Homo sapiens: one gene and its partners. The protein of the gene in region 6 purifies or fractionates together with the protein of the main gene of each other region. This does not show direct contact. Each region holds a gene or a part of one and is shown on either strand. Other genes may lie near its edges.

Region 1 (2,543 bases), on a different chromosome or scaffold from region 6:
AGTTGGGTTGTGTTGACGGCTAGGGATTGATTGGCCAAACTGAAAACAACACTAAGTGAGTAATTTTTTTTTTTGAGACAGACTTTCACTCTGTCACCCAGACTGGAGTGCAGTGGCACAATTACGGCTCACCACAGCCTCGATCTCCTGGGCTCAAGCAATCATCCTACCTCAGCCCCCCAAGTAGCTGAGATTACAGGTGCATGCCACCATGCTCGGCTAATTTAAAAAAAAATTTTGTAGAGGGCCTGTTGGCTCACACCTGTAATCCCAGCCTAGCAACATGGTGAGACCCCACCTCCATAAAAAATTTAAAAATTAGCCAGGCATGGTGACTGGTGCCTGTGGTCCCAGCTACTTGGAAGGCTGAGGTAGGAGAATGGCTCGAGCCCAGAAAATCAAGGCTGCAGTGAGCCATGATCGTGCCACTGCACTGCAACCTGGGTGACATAGTGACACCCTGTCTCAAAAAAAATTTTTTTTATTGGTAGAGATGGTGGTCTCCCTTTGTTGCCCAGGCAGGCTGGTCACCAACTCCTGGGTTCAAGTAAACTTCCCGCCTTGGCCTCCCAAAGTCTTGGAAGTACGGGGATGAGACACTGCACCCCACCATTTTTTTTTGTGATGGCATACACACCATAAAGAACTAAGATTGAAAAGGAATTGTTCATTTGAGTTTCTAAAGTTGGCCAGTATTGGCCAGGCATGGTGGCTCAAGGCCTGCAATCCCAGCACTTTGGGAGGCCAGGGCAGGTGGATCACCTGAGGTCAGGAATTCGAGACCAGCCTGGCCTACGTGGCGAAACCCCGTCTCTACTAAAAATACAAAAATTAGCTGGGCGCAGTGGCACGTGCCTGTAATCCCCGCTACTCAGGAGGCTGAGGCAAGAGAATCACCTGAACCCGGGAGACAGAGGTTGCAATAAGCTGAGATCATGCCACTGCACTCCAGCCTGGGCAACAGAGCAAGACTCCATCTTAAATAAATAAATAAATAAATAAATAAATAAATAAATAAAGTAAGTTGGCCAGTATAAAGATCACAAAAGTTAAAAAGTCAAAACAAAAATGCCCAACATGCAGGCACAGAGGTTCTTTAAGATCTCATATGCAGGCTTTGAAGTAAGCATTAAGAAAACTATATTGTTGGCCAGGCACAGTGGCTCACGCCTGTAATCCCAGCACTTTGGGAGGCCGAGGCAGGTAGATCACCTGAGGTCAGGAGTTCGAGACCAGCCTGGCCAACGTTATGAAACCCCGTCTCTACAAAAATGCAAAAATTAGCCGGGCGAGGTGGCATGCACCTGTAATCCCAGCTACTTAGGAGGTTGAGGCAGGAGAATCGCTTGAACCCAGTAGGCAGAGGTTGCGGTGAGCTGAGATCACACCACTGCACTCCAGCCTGGGCAACAGAGCGAGACTCCATCTCAAAAAAAAAGGAAAAAGAAAAAAAAAAAGAAATATTGTTGATAAGGCTAAATAGTTTCATAAATAGTACATTTTGTCAACTACTAAATAACTAGATGAGATGGCAGATTATCTATGGTACTCTTAATAATGTAAATAATTCTGTGATACAATCAGTGGATTTTAGAAAAGAAAAAATTTATATTAAATTTGCAGTTCAATAAAGTAAAATAATTTTATAACAAAACAAGATTTTGGATCGCTTGAGGGGGGTGAGGGGAGGGTCAGAGGTTGCAGTGAGCCGAGATTGTATCACTGCATCCCAGCCTGGGTGACAGAGTGAGACCCTGTCTCAAAAAAAAAAAAAATAGTATAAATATCTGTTAGCTTTATACAGTTGAAGAAATTCATAGAATATATTTAAGCTAAGAATGGGAAAGAGAGGGAAAAAATGTGTTTTTGAAACTTCAAACCATATATTTGAAAACATAATCAGATTTTAGTGTGACTGTTGTATTTATTTTATTTTATTTTATTTTATCATTTCATTTCATTTCATTTATTTCATTTTATTTTATTATTTTATTTTATTTTATTTTATTTTATTTTGAGATGGAGTCTCACTTGTTGCCCAGGCTGGAGTGCAGTGGCATGATCTTGGCTCACTGCAACCTCTGCCTCCTGGGTTCAAGTGATTCTCCTGCCTCAGCCTCCCGAGTAGCTGGGATTATAGGTGCACGCCACCACACCTGGCTAATTTTTGTATTTTTAGTAGAGATGGGGTTTCAGCATACTGGCCAGGCTGATCTCGAACTCTTGACCTCGTGATCCGCCTGCCTAGGCCTCCCAAAGTGCTGGGATTACAGGCATGAGCCACCGCGCCCGGCTTTTTTGTTTTTGTTTTTGTTTTCTGTGTGTGACAGAGTTTCGTTCTTGTTGCCCAGGCTGGAGTGCAATGACGCGATCTTGGCTCACTGCAACCTCCGCCTCCTGGCTTCAAGCGATTCTCGTGCCTCAGCCTGCAGAGTAGCTGGGATTACAGGCGTGCGCCACCACGCCCAGCTAATTTTGTATTTTTAGTAGAGACGGGGTTTCACCATATTAGTCAGGCTGGACTCAAACTCTTGATCTTAGGT
Region 2 (3,500 bases), on a different chromosome or scaffold from region 6:
GGAAAGTGTTGTCCGCAGGGCGAGCAGAAGGCTTGCCAAGAAGACTGCCGAAGAGCCAGCTGCCTCTGGCCGCATCATCTGTGAGTCTGGGGGCTTGGCAGTGGCGGGTGGTCCTTGGTGCCAGGCTCAGATGGAGGCTTTCTGAGGGATCATCTAGCAAGGAGCTGTCCAGAGAGCTTTCTGCAGTGAGGTAGATGTTACACATCTGTGCTGTCCTGGGATGGTGGCCGCTAGCTGGCCTCATCTGGCGATTGTGTCCTCAAAATGTGGCTAGTGTGATTGAGGAACTGAATTTTAAATTGTATTGCATTCTACTTCTTTTAGATTTAAATAGTTACATGTAGCTAGTGGCTTCCACGTTGGATGGTGCAGGTCTGACCCAACCTACTTGCTTTACAAGTGAGGAAACTGAGCTTCGGGAAGGTCGGCCACTGTGTGGCTGTGGTTACTGGCCATGTTGAGGCTGGAGCCTGGGCCTCTTCCGCAGGGCCAGCTCATTCCTCCCAACCCTATGCTGCAGAGGCCACTTAAATTCACCGGGTTTGCGCGCCGCCTATTGGCGACACTGTGTTTGATCTGGAGGAGGGAATTATGGCAGCAGGCTCCTTCGGGGAGATCAGATGACTGGGCATCTGATGGGAGCCAGGAGGGGGAACCAAGCTGACTCTGGAGCTGGCCGGCCTGGGTCTGAGTGCCAACTCAGCCATTCACCCACCCTGCAGCCTGGGGCAGGTCCTGGAAACTTCACGGGCCTCCACTCCTTGCCTGTCAACTGGGGCTAATCGCGTCACTTCAAAGGGTCGTTGTGAGGTTTTCTTTGGTCACCCCACACAGGGAGTTTAGAAGGGTGCCTGGCATATAGGAAGGACTCGGTAATGTTAGCTGCTCTCTCAGATCTCAGCTTAGGGGGCCATTGCCCACTGGAGCAGGTGTCTGGAGGGGCAGGCTGGCTGCATGAGGAGGTGAATCTGAGCTGGGAGGGTTCTGAAGGATGGCTGCGCTTTTGCTGAGTGGAAAAAAAATGCGGGGATATGTGTTATTGGCAGAGGGAACAGCTTGTACGAAGACCCTGATGCCTAAAGCAACAAGTGATGGGTGTCTGGGGCTCATGCTCACACAAGAGCTTGAACTTGACCCCACTGAAGCAAAAGAAGTGGCTTGATGATGGGAAAGTGAGGGAAACAGGGAGACCAGATAGGAGGCTGCTGTAAGGATGCAGGCAGAGGACGGGCAAAGCAGCGGATTGGTGGCGAGGATAGGCCAGGATTTATCTTTTTTTTTTTTTGATACAGAGTCTCGCTCTGTTGCCCAGGCTGGAGTGCAATGGCACGATCTCGGCTCACTGCAACCTCTGCATGCATCTCAGGTTCAAGCAATTCTCCTGCCTCAGTCTCCCGAGTAGCAGGGATTACAAGCGCCCGCCATCACACCAGGCTAATTTTTGTGTTTTTGTTTTTTAGTAGAGATGGGGTTTCACCATGTTGGCCAGGCTGGTTTCGAACTCCTGACCTCAAGTGATTCACCCGCCTTAGCCTCCCAAAGTGCCGGGATTACAAGTGTGAGCTACTGCGCCCAGCCCAGGTTTTATCTCAACGCATGTTAAATAGTAGCTGGCATCTGCCTGGCACTTTAAGATTTATAAAATGAAAGGTTATTTCATTTGGTCCTTACAGCAGCATTGTTAGCTTGTGAGGAATTTTTCACTTTACAGAGGAGGAAACTGAGGCTTAAGGAGGCCATGGAGTCTGTAAATCGGGAAGCTGGGGCTTGAGCGCTGTGTGTTTCATTCTGTCCAGAAAGTCAGGTGCTTGCAGAAGAGGCTTTGTGCAAGGCCGCAGGGCAGGGCCTGTCAGGCAGGGGAGGGCACCTCACCTTGGCAGCTTTCTCTCTGCCTGAGTCACACTGCCTGGGGACGGGCCTGCTCCAGGGTTTGGGGTGACATACTCTGGGGCGTGTGCAGATGTGCAGTCTGCCACACTGTCTATTTCTGGATTCTCAGAAGGATCTAAATGGTTCTGATCTGTTTTGGAGATTTTCTCAGGCCTGGATCTGATCTTGGGAAGGGGCTTCAAGCGGGGGCAGGTGAGCCTGGGCCTGTAGAGGGAGGGCCAGGCAGGGTTGCAGAGAATCTCTGGAGACCTTTGGAGCAGACATCCAGATCTGCAGCTCTCATGCCCTTCCATCACTCTTCCCTCTCTGTCTACCCTTTCCCTGCCCATGAATGGGCTTCTGATTTGACTGGTGCATGTTACCTGGGTCTGTCTGACTCCCAGCCCAGCATCATCTCTCCTCTTGAGGGGGTGGAGGAGAGAGAGGAGGATACAGGATCTAGGATCTGGAGTCACACAGACCCTGGGTGACCTTGGGCACACCCCTTCTCTCAACCTCAGCTTTTCTGTGAAATGGTGATAACACTTGCTTTGAATGTGAATAGATAACTCATCTTAGTGCTTGAGTGTAGTGGATACTCAGTACATCTTATTTGAGAAAACTCACCAATGGCTGATGCTCAGTTTGGGTGCGACAAGGCCGACCCCTAGTGAGGAGCTGCAAGGGTGTCAGGGAGTGGGGCGGTGACAGGGGAGGAGGCTTCCTGGGGGTCTTCCTGATACCAGGCTCTGGGAGAGGCTCTCGGGCAGCTCCAAGGTGGGGTCTTGGTTTGGGTGTTCCCCACGAGCAGCCCTTGACACAAGGATTTGAGTTCAATTTGTTAATTTTTGGGAAATTAACAAATTTAATTTCCCAAAAATTAAATTCGGGATGGGAAGGAAACACCTGCACCAGAGGAATGGAAAAATGAGATAGGAAAAAAAGCCAGCAGTCAGCGTGGGTGGAGGGGGCTTCTGGAAGCCAGAGTGTGGCCCCGGGGCGTGGAACTGCTGTGTGTCAGCAGGAATCCCCTGCCTCCTGGCCTGGTGCGCACGTGCCTGCGGGGCCCATCGGGCAGCAGTTCTGAAGTGGATAGGAAGGGACAGGCCCACTGCCTCAGGACTCCACCTTGGGGCGTTCGAGCCACCTCTGCATTGGAGAACAGTCCTTCCATCCCTCTGCCAGTGCTTAGGCCACTTCCCTACCACCAGACCAGCTCTGAGGCCTGAATGTCGTGCAGATGGCACTTAGCATTCCAGAGAATGCTTGTGCTGGTGGGAGAGCCATGTAGTCACATGGGCGTCTTCATCAGGGAGCACGTGAGCTGGGATGACACAGCATGGGGAGATGAGGAGGATGTATCTTCTGGGTATAAACCCCTTAAATGGGGGTCATCACCACCCATGACTGTCAGCCCGGCGCTGCAGCTGCTCCCACCACCTCCCCAAACCTGGCTGCTATACCCAGGAAGGGTCCTGGCTTCCCTTCTCTGTGCCTGGCCTGCTGTCTTCCCTCTTTTCCTGAGACCCTGTGCACCCCAACCTCCCGCTGGCCACCTCCCAGCCTGAACTCTGACCAAGCCCCCATGGCTCAGGATGCGCCAGCTCAGCTACCTTCTCTCTGTTCCCCAA
Region 3 (3,500 bases), on a different chromosome or scaffold from region 6:
TAATCCCAGCTACTCAGGAGGCTGAGGCAGGAGAATCACTTGAACCCAGGAGGCAGAGGTTGCAGTGAGCTGAGATCGTGCCATCGCACTCTAGCCTGGGTGACAAGCGTGAAACTCCGTCTCAAAAAAAAAAATCTAATTTTAAATTGGAATATTGTGTTTATCTGTGTACTATTAGGAAGGTCTTTTATCACTTGCCTATAACTTCTACATTCTTAGGAACTTTTAGATTTTCTGGCTTTTTTTTTGTTTTTGTGGGTTTTTTTTGTTGTTTTTTGAGACGGAGTCTCGCTCTGTCTCCCAGTCTGGAGTGCAGTGGCACGATCTCGGCTCACTGCAAGCTCTGCCTTCCGGGTTCACGTCATTCTCCTTCCTCAGCCTCCTGAGTAGCTGGGACTACAGGCGCCCGCCACCACGCCCAGCTAATTTTTTGTATTTTTTAGTAGAGACGGGGTTTCACTGTGTTAGCCGGGATGGTCTCAATCTCCTGACCTCGTAATCCACCCACCTCGGCCTCCCAAAGTGCTGGGATTACAGGCATGAGCCACTGCGCCCGGCCAGAACTTTTAGATTTTCTCATTTCCCAGTTGCATGTTAGGTAGGATTATTTTAATTTAGCTTTACAAAGTTACATATTTAAATTACGCTAAAATGCAGCTGTCTGCACTCACTGGATTTAAATAGTGTAGCTGATTTTTGTAGCATTACTTTAGTGAGTTAGTACCTACGGGCCAAAGCCTTAAGTGTTAGAAAGGCTAGAGTCTAGCCACAAGTCGAATTGTCAAAGAAAAGCCAAGTATTATACTTCTTTATCTGTCTTTCTGTATCATTTCCTTATTAGGAAAAACTGAGCTGATCCTTCTTAACTAGCTATGTCAAGAGTTTCTCACTTTCTTATGTGAGATAGTTCATCTTCTGTTTTAAGATCAAGAAAGAATCAAGTTAACTAGCGTTCTCTACCATTTCTTAAATGAATGTTATTCCAGTTTCCAGAGGGCAGCGTCTTTTGTTCAGATATTACTGGGCCTTGTGGGAAGGTAATGTGACTTTCCTCTTAGGGAAGGCAGGAGCTAGGGAAAGGAAGGGTAGTAATTTCTTTTCTTTTCTTTTTTTTTTTTTTTTTTTTTAAGATGGAGTCTCACTCTGTAGCCCAGGCTGGAGTGCAGTGGCGTGATGTCGGTTCACTGCAAGCTCCGCCTCCCGGTTTCACACCATTCTCCTGCCTCAGCCTCCCGAGTAGCTGGGACTACAGGCTCCCGCCACCACGCCCAGCTAATTTTTTTGTATTTTTTAGTAGAGACGGGGTTTCACTGTGTTAGCCGGGATGGTCTCAATCTCCTGACCTCGTGATCCACCCACCTCGGCCTCCCAAAGTGCTGGGATTACAGGCGTGAGCCACTGCACCTGGCCAATTTCTTCTTTCTTTTGAAGAATGGGGTCAGTCTGCCTTTATTTGCACAGGGTTGTGGGTAGATTTTCCAGTAAAAAGTAAATAACTGGTAATGAAAATTAGGACTTTTTCATGGTGAGAGATTTTCTTTGCAATATACGCTTATTTTGCTATCTGTTATTTGTGTTTGTACAGATAAACATGATGCTGGCAAACCTGTACAAGAAGGCTGGTCAGGAGCGCCCTTCAGTCACCAGCTATAAGGAGGTGCTGAGGCAGTGCCCATTAGCCCTTGATGCCATTCTAGGTAGAGATATTTCCTGCCTGTTTTCATGGCATGTTTACTGTCAAAGATAGTAGTTCTCAATCTTGCCTGTACATTAGAATAACTTTATTTTTTTTAAAAGTTCCCCTGAAGAGAGTGATTTAGTAGGATTCCTGTTGTCACATATTCAATCAAGAAATACTTAATTATGGTTTTTGGCCGGGCATGGTGGCTTACACCTGTAATTCTAGCACCTTGGGAGGCTGAGGTGGGTGGATTGCCTGAGCTCAGCAGGTCGAGACCAGCCTGGGCAACATGGCACAACCCCGTCTCTACTAAAAATACAAAAATTAGCCAGGCATGGTGGCGCGTGCCTGTAGTCCCAGCTTCTCGGAAGGCTGGGGCATGAGTATCGCTTGAACCCAGGAGGCAGAGGTTGCAGTGAGCTGAGATTGTGCCACTGCATTCCAGCCCAGGGGGACAGAACAAGACACTGTCTCAAAAAGAAAAGAAATACTAAATTATGGTTTTTCTCTCATGCATCGCTCAGAATAGGGAAGCAGTTGCCTTTTAGCCAAGGGAAGATGTAGCCCGTTGCTCCTTGCATGTGGAAGAGAGATATCGTGCCTTACTTTCTTTCTTCTGCTTTCTGTTGGTTTAGGCTTGTTGTCCCTTTCTGTAAAAGGGGCAGAGGTGGCATCCATGACAATGAATGTGATCCAAACCGTGCCTAACTTGGACTGGCTCTCTGTGTGGATCAAAGCGTATGCTTTTGTGCACACTGGTGACAACTCAAGAGCAATCAGTACCATCTGGTGAGAGCCACAAAGTTAATTCAGTGTTCTTGAGGCCCTTTGCTTGTCTGGAAGTCTGATGTATCTGAAGTAGCAAAAAGAAAAATGAGATGCTTTGCTGTTGGTGCTGCAGCCAGTCTCTGGGATGTGTTAGTCTTTTATACTGAATGGTCCCAAATGTAATCATGTAATCATCTCTGTTGGAGACCTGTAAAAATAGAAATCTGACTGAGTTTAGCTCTGTGCCTGCACAGGTAGTAACCCTTGCAAAGCAAAGCAGGCTACCTTGGTGTGTCATTTTTTTTTTTTTTTTTGAGACAAGGTCGGTCTCTCTCTCTCTCTCTCTCTCTCTCTCTCTCTCTCTCTCTCTCTCTCTGTCTCTCTCTCTCTCTGTCTCTCTCTCTCTGTCTCTCTCTCTCTCTGCCTCTCTCTCTCTCTCTGTCTCTCTGTCTCTCTCTCTCTCTCTCTCTCTGTCTCTCTCTCTCTCTCTCTCTCTCTCTCTCTGTCTCTCTGTCTCTCTGTCTCTCTCTCTCTCTCTCTCTCTCCCAGGCTAGAGTGCAGTGGCGCAGTCACAGCTCAGTGTAGCCTTGACCTGTCAATCTCCCGGGCTCAAACCATCCTCCTGCTCAGCCTCCTGAGTATCTGGGACTACAGGCGCATGCCACCACACCCAGCTAATTTTTGTATGTTTTTGTAGAGATGGGATTTCACCATGTTGCCCAAGCTGGTCTTGAATTCCTGGGCTCAAGTGATTCTCCCACGTGGGCCTCCCAAAGTGCTGGGATTATAGACGTGAGCCACCATGCCTGGCCTTGGTGTATCATTCTTCAGCCTGGAAGAAAATCATTTTGCACTCACCAGAAGCTTGGTTTATTGCAGTGTCTAACCTAGCTTGCCTGCTTAGGACTAGGGATTTTCTTTATATTCAGATAAAGTTCAAGGACAAGAAGAGACTTGGGCTTGTGTTATGCAAAGTCGTTTACTTGAGTAATAAATAGGTGTCACTTGTGAATGACATTACCTTTAACACCATGTAGCGTATGTTGTGTTC
Region 4 (3,500 bases), on a different chromosome or scaffold from region 6:
CCCAGCACTTTGGGAGGCTGAGGTGGGCAGATCACTTGACGTCAGGAGTTCGAGACCAGTCTAGCCAACATGGTGAAACCCCATCTTAACTAAAAATACAAAAATTAGGCTGGGTGCGGTGGCTCACGCCTGTAATCCCAGCACTTGGGAGGGCTGAGGCGGGCAGATCACGAGGTCAAGAGATCAAGACCATCCTGGCCAGCACCAACATGGTGAAACCCCATCTCTACTAAAAATACAAAAACTAGCTGGGCATAGTGGCACATGCCTGTAATCCCAGCTACTCGGGAGGCTGAGGCAGGAGTAATCGCTTGAACCGGGGAAGCAGAAGTAGCCATGAGCCGAGATCGTGCCACTGCACTCCAGCCTGGTGACAGAGCGAGACTGTCTCCAAAAAAAAAAAAAAATTAGCCATGCATGCTGGCAGGCGCCTGTAATCCCAGCTGCTCAGGAGCCTGAGGCAGGAGAATCACCTGAACCTGGGAGGTGGAGGTTGCGGTGAGCCGAAATTGTACCACTGCACTCCAGCCTGGGCGACAGAGCGAGACTTCGTCTCAAAAAAAAGAATTGGGGGTTGTGATATCAGCTCCCATGTGTCAAGTACCTATGTGTGCCAGGCTCTAGGCATAGCATGTTGACAATTCATTTTCTCATTGAATCCCCACAACCTCTCCCTTTTTTTTTTTTTTTTTTTTGAGATGGAGTCTCATTGTGTTACCCAGCCGGGAGTGCAGTGGTGCAATCTCGGCTCACTGCAACCTCCGCTTCCCGGGTTCATGTGATTCTCCTGCCTCAGCTTCCCAAGCAGCTGGGATTACAGGTGCACACTGCCACGCCTGGCTAATTTTCGTATTTTTAGTTGAGACAGGGTCTCACCATGTTGCCCAGGCTGGTCTCAAACCCCTGACCTCAAGTTATCAGCCCACTTTGGCCTCCCAAAGTACTGGGATTACAGGTGTGAGCCACTGCGCTTGCCCCACAACCTCCCTGTGATTCCCATTTTATAGATGAGGGCTTCAAGGCTTAGTGAGATGCAGGAACAAACTAAGGTTACCAGCCAGAGCTGGAGGGAGAGCAAGAAGAGAGGGCAGGGTTGAGGGAGGGGTTAGCTTTTCCAAGTAGATGAGGTTTGGGCATGTTCCACTGAAGGGAACGGGCCAGGTAGATGTGCCGGGAGAGAGGAATGCTTGCTGGCATGGCCTTTTTGGGGAGGTGGAGGAGTAGCTTCCAGATCTGATGCAGTTATACCCTTCGGTGGGGAGGCAGGGAGATGGGGGTGTTGTGCCTGAGTCCTCTTTTGACCCTGTTGCTGTAGGACTGTGAGAGGAAGAGTGGAGTAAGAACCTTGGAAAGTGGAGAAAAGTTGCTCCAGTCCAGGCGCGGTGGCTCACACATGTAATCCCAGCACTTTGGGAGGCCGAGGCAGGAGGATCTCTTGAGCCCAGAAGTTCGAGACCAGTCTGGCTAACAACAACAACAAAAAAAGCCAGGCATAGTGGCACATGCCTGTGGTCCCAGCTTCTGGGGAGGCTGAGTCGGGAGGATTGCTTGAGCCTAGGAGGTTGAGGAGGCTGCAGTAAACAGTGATTGTGCCGCTGCACTGTATCCTGGAGACAGAGCAAGCCTCTCGCCTGGGCCTCCCCATGCTGGAAGGCCTTGCCAGAGCTGGGGCCTGGGAGTGAGGGGAGAAGAGGCTGCTGGCTGGCTCCACAGGGTAAAGGTGTGGTGGAATGATGAGGACCTGGGGCTGTGCTGGGACAGGAGAGGGCAAAGTACGGGCCCTGGGGTCTGGGCAGGGTGGAGGAGGAAGTTGGGAAGAGGGTGATGTGCTAGAGGGAAACTGAAGGATGGGAAGTTGAAGGTGCAGTGGGGCAGACTGAATGGACAGTGGGGAATGTTGGAGAGGATGGGGAATCTCCAAGGCGGAGCCATTCTGGGATTGACAAGGCCAGGTGTGTGGCTGCTTGAGGGGAGCTGAGGGTGATTGAAGGGGATCACTGGAGATGCAAGAATCCAGGTAAACAGGCGTGATTGCCAAGTCCCCTGGGGAGGTGGCAGAGGTGGAAGAGGAGAGGAAGATGCAGGCAGCCCCTTGGTGTCTGGATAGTGAGAGGGCACGACAAGGGAGTCTGAGTTACCGAGGACAGAGGAGCCGTGGCTCAGAGCAAGGGGTGCTTAGTGAAGGCTCACTGTGTTTCTTCTCTTTTTTTTTTGAGATGGAGTCTCGCTTTGTCACCAGGCTGGAATGCAGTGGTGCCATCTCGACTTACTGCATCCTCAGCCTCCCAGGTTCAAGTGATTCTCCTGCCTCAGCCTCCCGAGTAGGTGGGACTAAGGCACGCGCCATCACGCCCGCTAATTTTTGTATTTTTAGTAGAGACGGGATTTCACCATGTTGGTCAGGATGGTCTCGATCTCTTGACCTCATGGTCCACCCGCCTCGGCCTCCCAAAGTGCTGGGATTACAGGCGTGAGCCCCCTCGCCCGGCCAGCTCACCGAGTTTCTAATAACCAGAACCAGTTTCAGTCACCACCGTCTTAGTGATTGCCGCCTGGGGATGTTAGTGATGGCCCTGGGGAGGGGCAGGTTATGCAGTAGGAACTGGCTTCTGGGGCCTCGCCCCATGGACCTGAGCGTGGCAGTAGAGCAGTTCTCAGAGGAAGGTGGTGGGAGTCATATTGACTGGGCAGGTGCCCCCAAAAGTTGTCTCCTAAATGAGAGGGATGGGCAGGTTCCCTTTGGGACAGTCGCAGAGGGAAGTGTGTGTGCAGCAGCTGTGCTGGTGGAGGAGTGTGTTCTTCGAGCGAGGCTTCCCGAGGACATGCATGCTGAAGCGTGAGGTGGTCTGTAGGGGGCGCTGCCCCAGCGTGGTGGGGAGGAAGGTGAGAGGAGGCCTGCATGCATCTGGGTCCTCACTGGCTTCCTGGAGTGGGTTGCTGCCACAGGCTGAGACCCCAGCGGGTGTCTAGAGCCTAAGGTGCAGCCAAGAGCCTGGCTCAGGGCGCCAGGGTTGGGAGTGCGGTGGACTCAGGTGAATCGCTGCCTCCTAGGGCCGGGCCTGGTGCCGGCGGCCCTGTTGGCGCTGAGCGGGGAAGCCAGTTGTGAAGCCAGTGAGTCCGTGGGCTGCAGTTCAGAGCATGAGCTCAACCCACATGGCCTGGGAGCAGAGCTTGTTCTGTCATCTGGTAACTGACCACATCTCTGTGCCTCAGTTTTCCTGTCTGTAAGATAGGACCCTCTGCTGGGTACAGTGGCTCACGCCTGTAACCCCAGCACTTTGGGAGGCCGAGGCGGGCAGATCACGAGGTCAAGAGATCGAGACCATCCTGGCCAACATGGTGAAACCCTGCTTCTACTAAAAATACAAAACTTAGCTGGGTGTGGTGGTGCATGCCTGTAGTCCCAGCTACTCGGGAGGCTGAGGCAGGAGAATCGCTTGAACCCGGGAGGCGGAGGTTGCAGTAAGCCGAGATTGCGCCACTGCACTCCCACCTGGCGA
Region 5 (3,500 bases), on a different chromosome or scaffold from region 6:
TTAGAAGCTGGCTCTGGCTGCCATGTAGAGAATGACTAAGAGGGTGGGAATGAAGACACGGAGGCCCACGAGGAGCCAGGGTGGAAATCCAGCGGAGAGAGAGTGGTGGCCTGGCCGGGGAAGGGACCATGGCACAGGGCGAGGTGGGCAGATCTGAGATGGAGATGGCAGAATTAGGTGGACTTGGTGACTGCTTGAAGGGGACAGTGAGTGAGATGGACGGGGCCCGGTGATGCCCAGGGTTCTGTTGGGGACAACTGGGAAGAGGGGGCACCTCCACTTGAGGCGGGAACACAGGAAACAGAGCATATTTGGGGAGAGGAATGGGGCCGGCTGGGTCATGCTGAAATGAGGTGGCCAGGACAGCCGAGGGCAGCGGGGAGGTGGACGTAGGCATATGGGAGGGAACTGGGGCTGGGGGTTCCCCTAGGAGCTCGTGAGAGCAAAGATGGGTCTGGGACTGCCGGAAAATGAGAATATCTGGGGAGAGAGTAGGGAGGTGACATTGGGAAGGGGGCCTGGGACAGAGATTCTCAGCCCTGGCTGCAAACTAGAATCTCCCAGAGAGCTTTTAAAACATCCCCAGGCCAGGACCCCTCCCCAGACCAAATAAGTTGGATTATTGTGGTCAGAGCATCAGTATATTAAGTTCCCAGGTGAATAAAAGTGGGCATCCCGTATTGAGAACTTTCCAATTGGAGCCATGGTTCTGGATGAGCTGTAGCAGCATCACCTGGGGACTTATCAGAAATATGAATTCTCAGGCCGGGCGCGGTGGCTCACGCCTGTAATCCCAGCACTTTGGGAGGCCAAGGCGGGCGGATCACAAGGTCAGGAGATCGAGACCATCCTGGCTAACACGGTGAAACCCCATCTCTACTAAAAATACAAAAAATTAGCCGGGCACGGTGCTGGGCACCTGTAGTCCCGGCTACTCGAGAGGCTGAGGCAGGAGAATGGTGTGAATCCAGGAGGCGGAGCTTGCAGTGAGTCCGGATAGCGCCACTGCACTCCAGCCTGGGCGACAGAGCAAGACTCCGTCTCAAAAAAAAAAAAAAAAAAAAGAAAAGAAAGAAATATGAATTCTCAGGGCCACCCGGACCTGCTGGATCTGATGTGCAGGTGGGCCCTGCATGCCTGCCTGCCTCCCACAGGCCCCAGGTGATGCTCGCAGATACTACTGTGCTAGAACGGAACTCTGAGGGGCACAAGGCCAAAGAAAGGTGGCTCATGCCTGTAATCCCAGCACTTTGGGAGGCCGAGGCTGGCGGATCACCTGAGGTCAGGAGTTCGAGACCAGCCTTGCCAACATGGCGAAACCCCATCTCTACTAAAAATATAAAAATTAGCCTGGCATGGTGGCAGGCACCTGTCATTCCAGCTACTCAGGAAGCTGAGGCATGAAAATCGCTTGAACCCAGGAGGCTGCTGTGAGCCGAGATCACGCACTCCAACCTGGGTGACAGAGTGAGACTTGGTCTCAAAAAAAAAAAAAAGGAAAGAAAGGGATTCTGCCAAGGTGCCTCGGAGAGGAAGGAGGAAAAGCAGAGAGAATGATGTCAGGGAAAGGAGGGAGTTTGGCCCAGGTCTCCCTCCCTGCCCTTTCTTGTCCCTGGGAGGCAGCTCTGCCTGACTGTGGCCCTGGAGGCACTGGCTAGAGGAGAGTCAGGGTGATTGGCATTTCCTGGCCTCCTGACTCTGGGTTCTTCCCTGGCAGAGGCTGACGCAGGAGATCCAGAGCCGAGAGCGGGACAGGGCCACAGCATCCCACCTCTCCCAGGCCCTGCAGGCAGCGCTCCAGGTAAGCAGCTTGCCTTCAGCTTGCCCCTCTCCATGCATCACCCTTGTCCCTCTTCCAGCCCTATCCCCCACACCCAGCCTCCCCCACTGGTTGCCAGCCTGCTGTCCTTTCCTCCCTGCTCAGGACTATGAGCTCCAGGCAGACACCTACCGCTGCTCTTTGGAGCCCACCCTGGCAGTGTCAGCCCCCAAGAGACCCCGAGTGGCTCCCCTGCAAGAGAGCATCCAAGCCCAGGTGAGATGGGACCTTGCGGGGCTCAGTGGACCTTGACACCAGCTCTGTAGGGTCCAAGGCAGGAGCTGACTCTGCCCTTCCCCTCTCCCTCTGCCTTCTCCAGGAGAAGAACCTTGCAAAGGCCTATACTGAGGTTGCAGCAGCACAGCAGCAGCTGCTCCAGCAGCTGGAGTTTGCTAGAAAAATGCTGGAGAAGGTACACAGACAACACCTACAGCTTTCCCACAATAGCCAGGAATAACCAGGAATGCCCACTCCATTCCCAAAATGCCAGGCTGTCACCCTGGTAGTCTCCTTCCCTCCTCTCCCTCCTGCCTGCAGCCCCTGGGCAGCTCTGGCTGCTGGAGAGGGGAGCGGATTCCAGCCACCCAGTTTTCTCTCCAGCAGCTCTTACAGGCTGGTGTCCATCCCAGGGTTAGGCCCTGGAGATGGCATTCATGGCCACTGGGCATCCTCCAATGGGACAAGACCTCTAACCCCAGAGAGCAGAGAAAATCCCCTAGAGCTTCACCCTCAGCCACCTGGCTCTCCACCTTCGGCCTACACACCCTCAAGCCAGAACTTCTCCAGGACTCCTGGTGACTTGCCAGCTTTTCTGTTACCCTCGGCCACAGTCAGGGTCCCTGGATGGAAGGGGAAAAGGGAGAGGTTCTGGAGGGACAGGGAGAACCTGTCCTGTTTGCACTTTTTTTTTGTTTTTTGTTTTTTTTGAGACGGAGTCTCGCTCTATCACCAAGGCTGGAGTGCAGTGGCACAATCTCAGCTCACTGCAACCTCCGCCTCCCTGGTTCAAGCGATTCTCCTGCCTCGGCCTCCTGAGTAACTGGGATTACAGGCATGCGTCACCACGCCCAGCTAATTTTTTGGATTTTTAGTAGAGATGGGGTTTCACTATGTTGATCAGGCTGGTCTCGAACTCCTGACCTCAGGTGATCCGCCCACCTTGGCCTCCCAAAGTGTTGGGATTAAAGGCATCAGCCATTGCACCTGGCCCTTACTTGCACTTTCTAATGCAAACCAGGCCTGCGCACTGCCTTGGGTCCTAAAATCATTGCATTGACTGGGTCTTCTCAAAATCCTATATCCAAGCATCTTAGGTCTTCAGCTCCACCTCTGAGGACCCACTGGGGAGTCTCAGGAAACAGGGAGGGGTCTTTCATCTCAGGAAAAACATGGAGCTCCTATCTCTACCGCCCACCCCGTGCTCTACCCTTCTTCCTCTCTGCAGAAGGAGCTCAGTGAGGACATCCGAAGGACCCATGATGCAAAGCAGGGCTCCGAGAGCCCTGCCCAAGCAGGGAGAGAGTCAGAGGCCCTGAAGGCCCAGCTGGAAGAGGAGAGGAAGCGGGTGGCCCGGGTGCAGCATGAGCTGGAGGCGCAGAGGAGCCAACTGCTGCAGCTGAGGACCCAGCGGCCCTTGGAGAGGCTGGAGGAGAAGGAAGTGGTAGAGTTCTACCGGGACCCC
Region 6 (3,500 bases):
ATGACTTGCTGAAGTTTCTAGAACTGATAAAATCTTTCTCAGGCTTGCCAATTCGATTTCAGACCTCTCACTCTACCCACCTCCAACACCACACCATGGTTCTCTGAACTAAGCAACAATACATTATAATATCTAGGTATTGCCCTAAGTACAGTCCCTCCTACCCATGTCCCAACCCCTAGATTCCAATTCCATGCCCTGTCTCAGTGGCATATTACCACTGACAGTCCCAGTACCTCTGTGCTCCTCCTTCCCACCTCACCTGCCGTTAGACATCAATAGGGCCAATGGGCTCTCATTTCCATCAAGGTCCAAGTCTGGTGAGTCGTCATCTGAGTCATTCAAGCAGGCACCAGTGATGTTGAACTGTAGAAGTAGGAGACTCAGCCGTTACCTGTCTGGGACTCCCATGGGAATCACGATGGCAAGTTCCCTCTGGTTTCACTGGTTCAGTTCACTGTCAAAACCACCTGAGCCAAGGCCTTCTGCTATACTGTCCCCCCATACCCCCACTGATCACAGGAGCAGGAGGTTGAAAATGTGTGGTTGGTTCAGGGGACACCTGTCAATCTTGTGAACCATGTTCCCTTAAAAAAGAGGGGGCACATCTTCAGATGCCCATGGAGAGAATCACAATCTTGAGGCAAGATGGAGCCCTGGTGGAGGGCTTTTCTCAAGGACCTGCTCAAGACTACAACCTGACACACGCAATGTTTTCAAATCTCATTCCCGTCCCAGCATTTCAAAATTCAGCTAAGTGTTATGTTTTCTGAAAAGAGCTCCTGAAAATCTTCCCTACCCAGACAGAATCAACCCTCCTCTGTATCTCAGGGTCCCACACACACCCCTGATTGTGGCATTCACAATACTTGATTGCACTCATTTGTTTTTATGCCTGTCTTTCTCACTCGCCTGTCAGCCTCTTGAGAGTCACATCCACAGCACCTATCACAGTGCCCGGCATAGAAAAGGTCTCAATAAATGCCTATTAAATGAGTGGGACTGGTAGCCAAACAGCAGGGGGTCTAAGGGACATGGCAGCCAGACAGGATAGCCTGCTTTTTGAAACCCTGCTCTTCCAAGGGACACCCAAAAGGGTTGGGCTGAACCCATGGGCCAGCACCCACCTTTGCTTTCTGGAAAGAGCCTGTCTTCAGTGCCTGATGACTGTATGTGTCCATGAGATTATAGCTCAACTGGCCAGCAGGCCCCAAGGCTGAACTCTCCTTGCCCTTTCGCTCTGCCTTCTTGAAGAGTTCCTTGGGCTTCAGGCCTTTCTTCTTTGAACCATTTTTGGAGGGCAGTGACAGCCTGGACATGGACACTGAAGTGGAATGGGCTGGCCTGGTTAGGGGAATGGAGCCGGCTGGGAAGATCCTCTGCAGCCCAAAGATATTGCTCGTCTTCCCAACGTTCTGTTGGAAGATGTCCTACAAGAGTGTTAGTACATGAGGGGGTTAGAGCTTACTCAAGGGTTCTCTCAACACTAACAGCAGAGGTCTGTTCCTGGTACTGGTGGTACTGCCATGGAAGTGGCTTATAGATGCTCCACATATGCACACCCTAGCTTTTACATAATGAGTCATCAAGAATTTATTGGGTGGCATTTCTTTACCCAGCCATTGACAAGTAAGAAGACGAGCAAAGCACTACTGTCAAAACTGGAGAGAAAATACTCCATTAAGTAGCTGACATGAGACAGAAAATAATCAAGTACTAATCTGTGTGGTTCAAATTCTAAGGACTACAGGATTTGAGAGAAGGAGAGGTTCTAGTCCTAATTCTGCTGCTAGCTAGCTCTGTAACTAGCTCAGGAAAGTTATCTGACCATTTGAGACTGTTTGCTTAGCTGTAAAATTAAAGGACTAGACTGGAAAGGTGATTTTTGAAGATGTTCTGTGGCTCCTTTGAGCTTCTTGGGAGGAGCCCCGAGAATCGGGGGAAGGTAGAAGGCGAATGAGAAGAACAAGTGGAGCCCTGGGCCTCCCACCTTCATCTTATTCAAAGCAGTTATGCTTTGAATATTGGGCTTCCACCTAAGATGTCATTTTAAAAAAAGGATTCCATTGCTTTAAAACATTTGAAAGCCCATGGACCACATATAATCTATCTCTAAGTCCTCTTCCAACCAGCCCAAAGTTTTGTGGTTTAAGTGAGAGGCGCTGGAGAAAAGGTAAGCCTTTAACTATCCTGAATGATTTTGACAGATGGGACTGGAGGAAAATGAGAGGTAGGAGGTGGACACTGTAAGCTATGGTGTAGGCAGTGAAACATGCTGCAAGCATTGAGGCTAGAAGCACAACTTCCCAGCTCACTTTGACCACCCTTCAGCATGGATGTATATATCCTGGGCACTAAATAAAACTTTACAGCTTCTGAGCTTAAAGGAATTCTCCTCTGGTGCCTCTGCTACTTCACCATCCCACACCAACTTCTCTCTTTGCTATTAAAGTCTACTAATAACAATGGCTCACATTTATTGAGTACTTACTCTGCCAGGCACTGTGCGAGGGGCTCTACATATATTAGCTTTTGATCCTAACAAAATCCTGAAAGGTTGATGTTATCCTCACTTTACAGATGAGGAAACTGAGGCTCTGAAAGGCTTGCAAGTGACAGAGCAGGAACCAGAACCCAGGTTTCTCTGAATCTCTTACCACTATACCTTACTGCCTCGTGGTATATGCCACCTGTTGAAACATGGCTTTGTAATCATCTTCACCCCGAGAGAACTGTCATTTTGCAGAATGCAGAGACTGAGTCAAAATATTAATAATAACAACAACTACAACTACCACCACCACCCACCACCACGACCCACCGTCAGAATTTACTGTGCACCTACTGTGTGCCAAGCACTCTATTTTTGTGCTCAACCCACATTACCTTATTTAATCCTTTTAACAATCCTCGAGTAGGTACAATTATCCCCATTTTAGAGATGAGGAAACTGAAACTCAAAGAGGTTAACTTTGCTCAGGGTCCTCTATTAGGCTGAGTTCTTTGTGGGCAGGCACTATTTACGTATTTTAAGAGCCTAGCCCAATGTGCGGCACACTTGAAACACAGTAATAATTATTTGAACGAATGAATTGGGTCTTTGGTAGGGTCTTCCCGACCCTTCCCCTGGGCTCTCATGCTAACTGCAGAGGCCTAACCTGCCACTTGAGCCTCAAGGCCTTTCCAAATGCCTTTTCTTCCCTGCCCCATGCTCCTTACTTCCACCAGGCGGATCTCCCTGGCCAGATCTTTAATGAGCTGTACGGTTCGCACTGTCTCCGGGATCTCATCCTCATGGTCTGGCAGAGCCTGTCAAACAAGAGGCATGAGGAATAAACCCACACATAAAGAGACAACTGATTTTGGACAAATATGCCAAGGCAATTCAATGGAGAAAGAGTAGTCTTTTCAACAAATGATTCTGGACCAATTGGATATCCACATGCAAAAAAAAAAACAAAAACAAACAAACCTCAATCCCTATCTTGCACCATACACAC
Region 7 (4,103 bases), on a different chromosome or scaffold from region 6:
GAAGTTCTCTAAAGATATGTGTCTCCTTATGGAATTTAACAGAAATCAGGGATTTGTATTCTAGCCATCAAGGGAATAACATTTTTCCAGGTCTTTAGACAAATAATGGAATACCTTGCAGTAATTAGATACACTATTGTAGAAAAGTATTGATGAAATGGAACGATGTTTGAGATATCATATTGAGTAGAAAAGGCAAGATACATTAAGTAGGAAATGTATCTTACAAAATAATTTGTCAGACACACTCCTATATTTGTATGTTATATAAATGCGTATGTGAAGAAAGGCTAGAGGATGAGACCACAGTCTTCGGTGAAGTTTAAGAGATGAGGCTGCAGCATGCTCAGAAAGGCCTGGGTTATAGTTCTTCCAGTAATTAAGGATGTGATCTTGGGTAAATTGTCCATCCTCTCTAAACTGCACCACCTTTTGTCTGTAAAACAGGAAGGATGGTATTTACCCCCAGGGTCATCAAAGGATTTGGTTGGAGAAAAATAAATAAATGGGCTGAGCCCAGACCTGGCACAGTGAGAGCACAGTGGTTGACTATTGTGCTGGCCTGTTGTTCCTGTGTTATTGACATGCTGCTGGTGGTGGTCCAGAAGCTATTACCTTAATTGGTTATGTGGATTTCCCCTCATACTGAGCAGCTGTGTGTGGTGTTGTAAAACATAGCCATACACAGTAACTGACAAGGGCAAATGTGATGGAAAAATGCAAGGAAGTGCAGATAAATAGCTAATGGGCTGTAGAAGGAAGCTAGTCCTTGGAGGGCTTGATCAAGGAAGGTCCTTTTGCATGTCACCTTTGAAGAAGAGGGGACATAGAAGAGGTATAGTGCATCCCGGAGTGTACCTGGAAGGGAACATGAAAAGAGGACATTTTTCTCTGGGACATGGGGACTCCACTTGCATGAACTCTGGAATTGGGGCAAAGAACCATCATGAGAACAAGGGCTTCCTTGAACCTCCCAGGCTCATTGGCTGATCTAAACCCTGTGTCCCCTCTTTCCTTCACTCTCCTCTGTTTTCTATACCTGTATTATTGGACTGGACTGGAAGCCACCTGATCTATCACAAGTACCTTGAAATGTGTTGAATAGGTGTGGCACAGTCCTTAGCAGAGTGGCACTACCCCCACAGGAATTTGTTTATACCGTTGGCATGGAAAATAGCAGGAAATGAGTGATCACTGATAACTGAGGATGCTATTTATTATTGGCCAAAGGAATACTTGTGTTGTATTTGCATAACCACTCACAAACTGTTGATTACAAATGAGTACCAGACCTAGCTCCTTCAAGTAAAGGATCCTGAGAACTGAAGGCAAACAGAGCTCCAGGAGTCCAAGACAGAGCCACAGACCACGAGGATCCCTGGCCCAGGTAGGTGGTCCTCCTGCACTGGCTTTCAAGGCCAACAGGATGGATGGGGAAGTAGAGTAGCATCTGGCCATCTAGACCCTTGCTTTTTATCCCCACTGGAAGCACATCTGAATTTCTAAATATGATCTCTGAGACCTGCCCAGAACACCTTGCTCTCAGCCCCAGTAGCAGCCTGCTCTCTCCCAGGAGGGCTTCCACTAACAAGTAGGGCATTGCTGGAGGGCCAGGCAGACACTAGCTTAGGAAATCCACCAACCCTGGAAATGCTAGTCCCTTCTCTGAAGGCTCAGAAGACTGACTTTAGAGTCTAGAAAATATTGGTCCTTGGGAACAGATTTTGAGTGCAAAGAGATGGACTTCAGATGGCCAGATGCACTGCTTCTTTAGGGAATTCTGTGAAAGCTCCCTGCATTTATCTTAATACAGGCAGCAGATTTCATGAGTACCCCCGAGGGATGGCCCCAGGTCCTCCAGCCTGTGAGCATCCTTCTGTCCTTCAGCAGCACCACAGTATCTTTATATGTCTTTGGATACCTACGTTTCTGCCAGACATCTCTTGCTCTGATGTTCTGGCTGCCAAATTCTCTGTCAAGCGCCTCCAATTTTTTGTGTCCTTTGATTTACCCCAACATGACAAAGGCAGTTGTGCTTCATGTATTCAGGGATACTGCCAAACCACAAACAGGTTAAAATCAAATAGCAGATATCCCTGTTCCTAAAGACCCATCAGCTCTACCCACCTGCTCCTGCTCACCGTCCTTATTGTTGAGTCCTGAAGCCCTTCCTTGTCATTTTTATTTTTTGCATGAACAATTTAGTTCCCTTTGTCTCACTCCTAAACCTTTCTCAAAGGATTGGATTTGTACACAAACTGCCTATCTCTGCAATCTTAGAAGTGATATGATTCTGAACAAATCACTTAACTTTTGATTTTTTATCGGTAAGATGGGAATACCAATTTTTGCTCCACTTCTGTCCTATGTTGGCCTGGGCTGATGTTGAAAGCTCTCGGTCAACTGAGATAGGGTGTGCAGAATTTATATATATAAATATATCTCCTCCAACCCCTCCCAATGAAGCAAGTCACGTGAGTCAATCCTACCCTAAGATATTAGGGATTGAGCCTCCTGGGACATTTGGTGGCTTAGGTTTTCATGAAAAGAGGTTGCAGAGCAACTGCTTTTTGTTAGGCAAAGATTAGGCTACTGCAGAGACTCAGCAAACTTCTATAGAAGGTGTCAGATGGTAAGTATTTTAGGCTTTGCTTGCCAGATGATCTCTCAACTAGTTAACCATGCTATTGTAGCCTCGAAGCAGCCAGAGACAATATGTAAACAAGAGCATGGCTGTGTTTCAATAAAACTTTATTTAAAAAAACAGTCAGGGACCGGATTTGGCCAAAGGCCATAGTGTGCCAGCCCCAAGACTAGAGCAATGCACTTTTAACTTTTTTATTTTATTTTTGTAAAATGCCAAGATCCACAAAAATGCTATTGCACCCCGTGTGTTAGCACTGTGACTCAAGGTTTGGGAAATTCTGCTTTGAAGGCGTGATAGACAGGAGAGCATGGTCTGGCCCCTTGGTGCCTTTCTGGTTGCAGCGAGCATTTCAAACTACAGAGCAAGGCCAGTGGTCTGTTCAGCACTAGAGACATGCAGCAAGGTGTCCTGGGGTGAGAAGATGCCATAACTGGTCCCCTTTCTATCTCCTTAGGTCTTGGACTTCATTCCATTTTCTGTTGAGTAATAAACTCAACGTTGAAAATGTCCTTTGTGGGGGAGAACTCAGGAGTGAAAATGGGCTCTGAGGACTGGGAAAAAGATGAACCCCAGTGCTGCTTAGAAGGTAAGGTTCTTGTAGAAATCTACCTCAGGGCCAAAGTGTAATTCCTAGAGCAGAACTTTGCTAGGTGCTGTGCACAGACCCAGTTGTTTCCTGCTGACTTGCACAGTAAGTGAGCTTTCAAATTTCCCTGGACAAATAACTAGACAAGAGAAATTCTGGAAGGGAAAAGGAAGCTTTGCTTCAGTGTCCAGGCACATCAGGTAGTAGATAAAAGGATCGTCCTCACCTACAGATTTGGGGCTTTAGCATCCTGTTTGCCAACTGGATGGTTGCATATGCTTCAAAATGCACCTCTTCCCTCCCAACATTCCCAAGTGGAAGAGAAGCCTCCGATGAGAAGCAGCTCTCTAAGGCTGGGCTGAACAAATGACCCAGGCACAGGGCATCTGAGTATTCCATGAGGAACACATTTGGGTGTTGCCCATGGGGGACAATAGGAGGAGGCTTTTGACCCAAATGATTGTCTACTGAGGTGTGACGGGAGAGGCCTGTGACATGCCAGAGGCCAAACCCGTGATCCAGTTCATCTCTATTCTATGTTTCTGAAGAGGGAAGCTATGATTTAATGTCATTACTATCATGCTGCTCTAGTATTTCTCAGCACATACACAGAAGAGGGAATTAAATGGTCTTTGATACCCCTAAATCCTTGGAAAATCCGAATTGCATATGCTAACCTCACTGCGTCTGACTGCAGACCCGGCTGGAAGCCCCCTGGAACCAGGCCCAAGCCTCCCCACCATGAATTTTGTTCACACAAGTAAGGCCTCGGGGTGAGGTGATGGGGGTGGCTGAGGTGCGAGGGTGGGGATGGGGGATGGAGCCATTGGGTCCTCTTACAGGGTGGGAGAATTGTAGAATGGGGACACC

The links.
Region 1: the proteins of PHF8 (region 6) and CGAS purify together in Homo sapiens (affinity purification with mass spectrometry; one large-scale study listed by BioGRID and IntAct). This does not show direct contact.
Region 2: the proteins of PHF8 (region 6) and INCENP purify together in Homo sapiens (affinity purification with mass spectrometry; one large-scale study listed by BioGRID and IntAct). This does not show direct contact.
Region 3: the proteins of PHF8 (region 6) and ANAPC7 purify together in Homo sapiens (affinity purification with mass spectrometry, with the first as the bait; one study listed by BioGRID). This does not show direct contact.
Region 4: the proteins of PHF8 (region 6) and SETD1A purify together in Homo sapiens (co-immunoprecipitation; one study listed by IntAct). This does not show direct contact.
Region 5: the proteins of PHF8 (region 6) and EVPL purify together in Homo sapiens (affinity purification with mass spectrometry; one large-scale study listed by BioGRID and IntAct). This does not show direct contact.
Region 7: the proteins of PHF8 (region 6) and IL37 purify together in Homo sapiens (affinity purification with mass spectrometry; one large-scale study listed by BioGRID and IntAct). This does not show direct contact.

Annotation. Positions count from the first base shown.
Region 1 is NC_000006.12:73,425,755-73,428,297, reverse strand, and holds part of CGAS (cyclic GMP-AMP synthase), read left to right. Parts: intron 1-2,543. UniProt on the Homo sapiens protein: Nucleotidyltransferase that catalyzes the formation of cyclic GMP-AMP (2',3'-cGAMP) from ATP and GTP and plays a key role in innate immunity.
Region 2 is NC_000011.10:62,130,511-62,134,010, forward strand, and holds part of INCENP (inner centromere protein), read left to right. Parts: coding exon 1-80; intron 81-3,500. UniProt on the Homo sapiens protein: Component of the chromosomal passenger complex (CPC), a complex that acts as a key regulator of mitosis.
Region 3 is NC_000012.12:110,386,709-110,390,208, reverse strand, and holds part of ANAPC7 (anaphase-promoting complex subunit 7), read left to right. Parts: intron 1-1,585; coding exon 1,586-1,697; intron 1,698-2,316; coding exon 2,317-2,470; intron 2,471-3,500. UniProt on the Homo sapiens protein: Component of the anaphase promoting complex/cyclosome (APC/C), a cell cycle-regulated E3 ubiquitin ligase that controls progression through mitosis and the G1 phase of the cell cycle.
Region 4 is NC_000016.10:30,974,754-30,978,253, forward strand, and holds part of SETD1A (histone-lysine N-methyltransferase SETD1A), read left to right. Parts: intron 1-3,500. UniProt on the Homo sapiens protein: Histone methyltransferase that catalyzes methyl group transfer from S-adenosyl-L-methionine to the epsilon-amino group of 'Lys-4' of histone H3 (H3K4) via a non-processive mechanism.
Region 5 is NC_000017.11:76,010,307-76,013,806, reverse strand, and holds part of EVPL (envoplakin), read left to right. Parts: intron 1-1,717; coding exon 1,718-1,801; intron 1,802-1,924; coding exon 1,925-2,035; intron 2,036-2,138; coding exon 2,139-2,231; intron 2,232-3,263; coding exon 3,264-3,500. UniProt on the Homo sapiens protein: Component of the cornified envelope of keratinocytes. May link the cornified envelope to desmosomes and intermediate filaments.
Region 6 is NC_000023.11:53,992,474-53,995,973, forward strand, and holds part of PHF8 (histone lysine demethylase PHF8), read right to left. Parts: intron 3,310-3,500; coding exon 3,220-3,309; intron 1,431-3,219; coding exon 1,128-1,430; intron 367-1,127; coding exon 263-366; intron 1-262. UniProt on the Homo sapiens protein: Histone lysine demethylase with selectivity for the di- and monomethyl states that plays a key role cell cycle progression, rDNA transcription and brain development.
Region 7 is NC_000002.12:112,909,862-112,913,964, forward strand, and holds the start of IL37 (interleukin-37), read left to right. Parts: upstream 1-1,303; 5' UTR 1,304-1,387; intron 1,388-3,101; 5' UTR 3,102-3,151; coding exon 3,152-3,233; intron 3,234-3,930; coding exon 3,931-3,993; intron 3,994-4,103. UniProt on the Homo sapiens protein: Immune regulatory cytokine that acts as a suppressor of innate inflammatory and immune responses involved in curbing excessive inflammation.